2 linked regions of the Homo sapiens genome follow. The protein of the gene in region 2 purifies or fractionates together with the protein of the main gene of each other region. This does not show direct contact. Each region holds a gene or a part of one and is shown on either strand. Other genes may lie near its edges. The genes, in order: UNC5B and MYO9A.

Region 1 (3,817 bases), on a different chromosome or scaffold from region 2:
ACGGAACTAAAACCCATGGAACCCAGAAGTTGCCGGGCTGAGGGTGGGGGGGTGGAGGGAGGGCCTCCTGCCTGCCCGCCCCCAACCAACTGCCTCCAGAGGCTTCAGCCCCATCTTGGTTCCTGCACAGAGATCTCAGGCCAAGAGAGAGAGAGCGGGGGTGGAGAAGGAACTCTGGGCCCTCTAACAACAGAGTACATGGATTTTCTAAGGCTGGTCATGGTCTGGGGGTTGGGGAAGAGGAGGAGGAGAGGCAACTCTGGCTGTGAACTGGGAGGAAGCAGAGGCCAAACATCCCCATCAGGAGGCTGCCCCAGGCCTCCCTGCACCTGCCTCCTGCCAGTCCCTGCCAGCCCGCTGTCCCAGGAGGCTCAGCAGTCCCCGTCGGTGGCCACAGCCACCAGCATCTCACTCTTGCCCATCTCCTCCAAGGCACTCGCCAGGCTGTTGAGGTCCCCATCGTCCTGCTGCAGAGCTTCCCAGAGGTCCAGGATCACACCCGTGGGGCTCGCTTTGGTGGCAAAGTAATTCAGGTACCTGGCAGAGGGAAGGAGGGCACTGAGGTTCCCAAGCACTTAGCCCCTCCCCGGAGCCTGGAGGTGAAGGGGCACAAGGGGAAGTGGGAAGGCTGTGAGCTTTGGTGTCCCACTGTCCTGGGTCTGAATTGCAGCTACTGTGCTGCAGTCTGTGTGGCTCTCGGCAATTCAGAACCTATGGCTCAGAATCTCAGTCTCCTTGTCTCTAAAATGGGAACAATGCCAGTTACCGCTCAGCAAGATCCAAGATCATATAAAGTAAGGGTCTAGCGTTGTCTCTAGCATGTAACCATCTTGTTCATCATCATCATTATTATCATTGAAAGACACTGGCCCCAAGAGAGAATGACCACGTCTAGCATGTGGTCATTCCTCCCACCCGTGTTCCCTCCTGCTCCCATGAACTCCCCTGATAGGAGGAATAAAGCCTTAGCCATCTTTGTAAGTCCTATTCATTTCTAGTAAAATGTCTTATCTAAAGCATATTTTATTTATTTATTTTTTGAGACTCAATGCAGGTTTATTACACATCTTTCAATAAGTATAATATTTATTATCATTGGCCTTATATTTATCCAGCACTTATCCAGCATTTGAGGTTCTCCAAAGGAGTTTTGACACCAAAGTGTATCTTGGTCAGTCAGCAAGCATCTCGCAGCACATTCTCTGTCCTAGATACCAGGTGCTGACAATGATGGCACCAAGCTGATGCCCTGGCTTTGAGTCTCCTGCTGTTCGGTGAGATGGGCAGGTGGAGCATTATCCCCACACAATGGGAAAAGAGCAGGGTCTGAGAGTCTGCCTGGCTCAAGGACCAGTGCTCTGAGCATGATGCTCCTCAAGGGAGCAGTATTCTTGAACTTTGCATATCCAATCCTGAGTTGCTGATTTGCCACAAATGGTGGCAAAAGGGCAGCTGGTCTGGGAGATGGTCGTGGCTGTCAGGCTGCCTGCCCTGCCTGCCCCTGTGAGACCTTGAGGACGAAGGCAGATGGGGATGGGCTGTGGTTTGGGATACTCACCGGTCCATAGAGAGCTTCTGTGCTAACATCCGCCAGTCATTGCCCCGTGAGTTGGGGGCATCTAGGCTGTTGCATATCTTCTGGCGGATGGACAGTGGGATCTTGAAGGCATAAGGTCCCAGCTGGGTGGTGACAGTGCTGCCAGGGGCAGAGCAGAGAGTGTCCAGGGAGCCAGCAGGTGTCTGCAAGGGTGGGGGCCAAGAGTGAGAGGGGCACAGTGCTGGGCATCTGCCCTCCAGCCTCCCTCCCCTTGGACTGTGAGCTCATTGAGCCTTGAGTCACTCCCACCTCCTCTGGACAGACTCCCACTGTTCAGGCAGGGGCTTCTCCCTTGAAGGGTCGGTTCCCAAGGGCAAGGCCTGCATGGCCACCCTTCAGGCCTCAGGGGGTGCACCATGCTTACCTAAGGCCCCAGGCAAATGCAGATGCAGCCTCATGGTTAGGAAGCCCCAAGGAGGCCCAGCCACAGTCTAATCCACATGCACCCTCTTGTACAGGTGGAAAGTGAAGTCTAGAAAAGGGGAGTGGCTTGCTCATGGCCACATGCCAAGTTAGTGGCAGACCTGGGTCCAGACCTGTATCCAGTGCTCTTTACAATGCCCCAAGAGGAGGATCTAGTGTTGTCACCCTGGGTGGCCTGGGTTTTTAAATCTCAATCCGGATTTTTAACGGTTGAGAACCACAGGCCTGGTCCTTGCATCAACCTGGGTTCGAATCCAGTCTTGCCACTGGTGTACTGTGTGCAAATCCTTGCCCTTCCTAAAACCTACTTTCTCACCTCCCAGGTGGGGATGATATCTGTCATGCATCTCCCGGTGCTTGTGAGATCATGTAAGTTTTTTGGTATATGCCAAGCATGTGAATGGCACTCAATCAATAAATGACACTTGTTAGAAAAACATGACCAGATACCCGCTCAGACTTGGGAGGTGAGAGGGAACTACAGGGTTCTGTGTGCTGCAGCCCAGCCCCAAACCCTAGAGGTATCCTCTGGCCCTCACCTCCACCAGCGTGGTGTGCAGCTGGAATATCTGGCGGCCCTTCCCTCACCTATGCCACAGTGCTGTGCAGCCGGAATATCTGGCCGCCCTTCCCTCACCTCCACCAGAGTGGTGTGCAGCCGGAATATCTGGCCGCCCTTCCCTCACCTCCGCCAGCGTGGTGTGCAGCTGGAATATCTGCCCCACCCTTCCCTCACCTCCGCCAGCGTGGTGTGCAGCTGGAATATCTGCCCCACCCTTCCCTCACCTCCGCCAGCGTGGTGTGCAGCTGGAATATCTGCCCCACCCTTCCCTCACCTCCGCCAGTGTGGTGTGCAGCTGGAATATGTGGCCCCGACTTCCCTCACCTCTGCCAGAGTGGTATGCAGCTGGAATATCTGGCCCTCCCCTTCCACTTGCCGCACGCAGATCTTGCAGGTGAGCTCTGTGGAGGCCAAGCTGTGCCTCTCCAGGGTGAAAGTGCAGTGGAGGGCCTTCTGGCTGCCACTCCAAATGTGATAGAAGGGGATCTCCTGCAGGAGGAGGGGGTCAGGACCAGGCAGGCAAGGCCAGCCTGCCCTGTCCTCATAGAAATGGAGGCTCAGGGAGGGTTGGGAGCTTTGGGGGGCAGTTCAGGCCTCTCCACCCAGATAGGGAGGGGTCAAGTGCCCTAAGCTAGCCAGCTGAGTTGGTGTCAGGCCCTCAGTTCCAGAAGGGAGCTGAGGGTGGGTAGGTGGGGGAGGGAAAGGCACAGGTGTGTGTGTGTCAGGGGCTAGGGGGCCTTGTGGTCTCAGGCGCTGCTGGGTGGGCAGCGGGCTGTGGCTGTCAGAGATGAGATGGGCAGTCTGCCAGGAGGGCATGCCCTGAAGGGTGAGGAGCCTCTGTGAGGATGAAGGGCATAGTCGTCTGTGCGTGTGAGGGTGTGACAGGGCAGAAGTGTGCATGTGGCTGCCCATTGCCCTGAATTTGGGGACGTGCCTGGGGATGGCTGAAAGCCTAGAGACTGGGGTGGGAGGAGACAGAGACAGTGAGAGATCCAGGGAGGGGTAAGGCCACAGGACAGAGCTAGGAGGCAGGGCCCGGGAGGGAGCTGGGCTTCCCGGGCAGCCCTTAAGTGGTGCCCCTCCCCATCCATCAGCCCAGCCCTCACCTGGTATTTGGCCAGCAGCTTGCTCCTCCAATGGGCATGGGGGAGGTCATGGAGGGAGAGGCGCAGGTTGTGGTAACTGTCCTTGAACATTAGCGGTTTCGGCTCCTCCACCAAGTATCCGCCCAGAGT
Region 2 (3,817 bases):
ACCTCATTTGCTACTATTGTAGATGACTATTACACAAATCCTCACTCTAAAAATTAAGGAAAAAATTAAGCATTTACTGTTCTCTTTTAATAGGAACTGTTGTTCACTCCCAGTTGATAAAGGTTACAAAGCTCTTATTAACTGAAGAATAACTAATAAATGAAAAAGAATTACAGAATTAGAAAAATCGCCATTTTGCAATCCTTAATTAAATACCTAAGGATCAAAAAAGATGCTAAAATTATTAGAGAAAGAATACTGAGAAATGGAATATTTGTATGGTACCAAAGTATCAGTCCCACAGATTATTGTACATAACAGGAGAAAAAATTTACTTTTAAAATGGAGACATAAGCAAACACCACCTTAAACCTATCGAACTTACATCACTGATAGGAGGACAGCTGACATTATGTGCCTCCCATTAACACACAACATGATATACAACATCACCTACAGAGTGTTCTTGCCAAAACTTTTTAATATGAATCTATTCAATCCTTTACAATATAACTTCCAGTTTACAGGACATACAAGCACCAGAAGAACAAGTTAAACAATCTAAGAAACAATCAGAAAACTCTAGAAAACAGGCCATTCTACAAGATGATTGGTCTCTTCAAAGACATTTCAATGTCACAGGGAAGAGAAATGTGGGAAGGAACTTCCTACATTGAGAGACTAAAAAGAGATAATCAAATGAAATGCAAAAACTAAAAGTGAGTTCTCTTTTGAAAAAAACATTTTTCAGGACAGTTGGGAAAATTCAAATATAAATTCAATATTAAATTAGGGTATTATTTTTCCTAGGTGTTGGTAATAGCACACTGGTGATACGAAAAATATGTATTTCTTAGAAAATATATACGAAGTATTTTGCAGTAAACTTGTCATGACACATACATTTTTTTTTTTTTTTTTGAGACAGAGTTTCACTCTTGTCACCCAGGCTGGAGGGCAATGGTGCAATCTCAGCTCACCACAACCTCCACCTCCCAGGTTGAAGTGATTCTCCTGCCTCAGTCTCCCGAGTAGCTGGGATTATAAGCACCCACCACCACGCCCAGCTAATTTTTGTATTTTTAGTAAAGACAGGGTTTCACCATGTTGGCCAGGCTGGTCTCAAACTCCTGACCTCAGGTGATCCACCTGCCTCGGCTTTCCAAAGTGCTGGGGTTACAGATGTGAGTCACGGCACCCAGCCGCAACTTACTTTCAAAAGGTTCTGCAAAAATATATACAATCACAGCCGGGCGTGGTGGCTCAGGCCTGTAATCCCAGCATTCTGGGAGGCCGAGGCAGCAGGCAGATCATGAGGTCAGGAGGTCGAGACCATCCTGACTAACACCGTGAAACGCCACCTCTACTAAAAATATAAAAAATTAGCCAGGCGTGGTGGCGGGTGCCTGTAGTCCCAGCTACTCGGGAGGCTGAGGCAGGAGAATGGTGTGAACCCAGGAGGTGGAGCATGCAGTGAGCCAAGATCATGCCACTGCACTCCAGCCTGGGTGACAGAGCAAGGCTCTGTCTAAAAAAAAAAAAAAAATACACACACACAATCACACAGGGAACAATAATGCAAATATGGATGGCATAACGCTATCTTTTGAATCTAGTTGATAGACATAATTAGTGTTCTCTTCCAACTTTTCTATTTCTTTAAGATCTTAATTATAAAACAATAGGGGAGGGAAGAAAGAGAACTAAAAGAAAACAGAGTTGCAAAAGCAAAATAAGACAAAAATATTAGTCGGGTGCAGTGGTTCACGCCTGTAATCACAGCATTTTGGGAGGCCAAGGCAGGCGGATCGCTTGAGGTCAGCAGTTTGAGACCAGTCTGGCCAATATGGTGAAACCCTGTCTCTATTAAAAATACAAAAATTAGCTGAGTGTGGTGGCACACACCTGTAATCCCAGCTACTTGGGACGCTGAGGCACAAGAATCAAGAATCACTTGAACCTCGAAAGTGGAGGCTGCAGTGAGCCAAGATCGCACCACTGCACTGTAGCCTGGGCGACAGAGCAAGACTCTGTCTCACAAAAAAATAAATAAATAAATAAGGCAAAAAAAATCTAAAAATCGTTTATAAACATGTCCACACAGTCACCTAAGAACTTTCTCCCTTACATTAAAAAAAAAAAAAAAATCTAGCCAGGCAGCGTAGTGGCACACATCTGTAGTACCAGCTACTCAGGAGGTTGAAGTGGGAGGACTGCTTGAGCCCAGGAGCTTGAGTCCAGCCTGGGCAATACAGTGAGATGCTGTCTCAAGAAAAAAACAAAAAGGAAATTCCAGGCCGGGTGTGGTGGCTCACACCTGTAATCCCAGCACTTTGGGAGGCCGAGGCAGGTAGATTACCTGAGGTCAGCAGTTGAAGACCTTCCTGGCCAACATGGCAAAACCCCATCTCTACTAAAAATACAAAAATTAGCTGGGCACGGTGGCAGGCACCTGTAATCCCAGCTACTTGGGAGGCTGAGGCAGGAGAATCACTTGAACCCGGAAGCCGGAGGTTGCAGTGAGCCGAAATTGCACCACTGCACTCCAGCCTGGGAGACAGAGCAAGACTCCATCTCAAAAAAAAAAAAAAAAAAAAAAAGAAAATTCCAGAGATTACTCAGCCCACTATCATCTGATCAATAAAAATAAACAGATTTCAAACAAATACTTACACACTACAAACAGCAATAGTACTAAAATCTGTCAATTATTTAAGGAATGTTTGTCATTGACAAACAGAACACATTTTGTTATGATAACTCACACTGAATCAAATACATTCTAAAATCCATTAATCTTATATGCTAAGACATCAAGAGAAGCATTTCTTTGCAGTATTTTTTCAAAAATATTTTTTAAATGCCCCAATGCCACAAGAAATATTTTAACTGAAAAAAATCACACTTGAAAGACAACTAGTAGACAGACTGCCCTAATATCTGCTTCTTTTAGCAACAAACTTTGATTAGCCATTTATTCTAAAAGCCACACAGTGAAATTCTTAAAATTCTTGATTTCGGCCGGGCATGGTGGCTCACGCCTGTAATCCCAGCACTTTGGGAGGCCGAAGCGGGCGGATCACAAGGTCAGGAGATCGAGACCATCCTGACTAACATGGTGAAGCCCTGTCTCTACTAAAAATACAAAAAATTAGCCGGGAGTGGTGGCAGGTGCCTGTATTCCCAGCTACTCGGGAGGCTGAGGCAGGAGAATGGCGTGAACCTGGGAGGCAGAGCTTGCAGTGAGCCGAGATTGCACCCCTGCACTCCAGCCTGGGCAACAGAGCGAGACTCCATCTCAAAAAAAAAAAAAAATTATTGATTTCACATTTAAACATAACAAGAAATAGGCTGCGCACAGTGGCTCACACCTATAATCCCAGCATTTTGGGAGGCCAAGGCAGGCAGATCGCTTGAGGTCAGGAGTTCAAGACCAGCTTGGTCAATATGGTGAAATCCTGTCTCTACTAAAAATACAAAATTAGCCGGGCATGGTGGCGTGCACCTGTAGTCCCAGCTACTCGGGAGGCTGAGGCACGAGAATCACTTGAACCCAGGAGGCAGAGGTTGCAGTGAGCCGAGATTGCGCCACTGCACTCCAGCCTGGGTGACAGAGTGAGATTGTCTTAAAAAAAAAAAAAAATTAATAAATAAAACAGGAAATAGACGTATTCAAGAGGGAAAAGGAAGACTTACTGAGTACCTACTATATGCTTGGTGCTTTACATAAAAATTTTTTTAACTCCAATGATAGTCTTATGAGGCAAATATTACCCCCAATTTTTTTTTTTTTTTTGAGGCAGGGTCTCACTCTGTT

Evidence for each region.
Region 1: the proteins of MYO9A (region 2) and UNC5B fractionate together in Homo sapiens (co-fractionation; one large-scale study listed by BioGRID). This does not show direct contact.

The regions. Positions count from the first base shown.
Region 1 is NC_000010.11:71,295,832-71,299,648, reverse strand, and holds part of UNC5B (netrin receptor UNC5B isoform 1 precursor), read right to left. Parts: coding exon 3,689-3,817; intron 3,072-3,688; coding exon 2,907-3,071; intron 1,741-2,906; coding exon 1,559-1,740; intron 538-1,558; coding exon 372-537; 3' UTR 1-371. UniProt on the Homo sapiens protein: Receptor for netrin required for axon guidance. Mediates axon repulsion of neuronal growth cones in the developing nervous system upon ligand binding.
Region 2 is NC_000015.10:72,107,859-72,111,675, forward strand, and holds part of MYO9A (unconventional myosin-IXa), read right to left. Parts: intron 1-3,817. UniProt on the Homo sapiens protein: Myosins are actin-based motor molecules with ATPase activity. Unconventional myosins serve in intracellular movements. Regulates Rho by stimulating it's GTPase activity in neurons.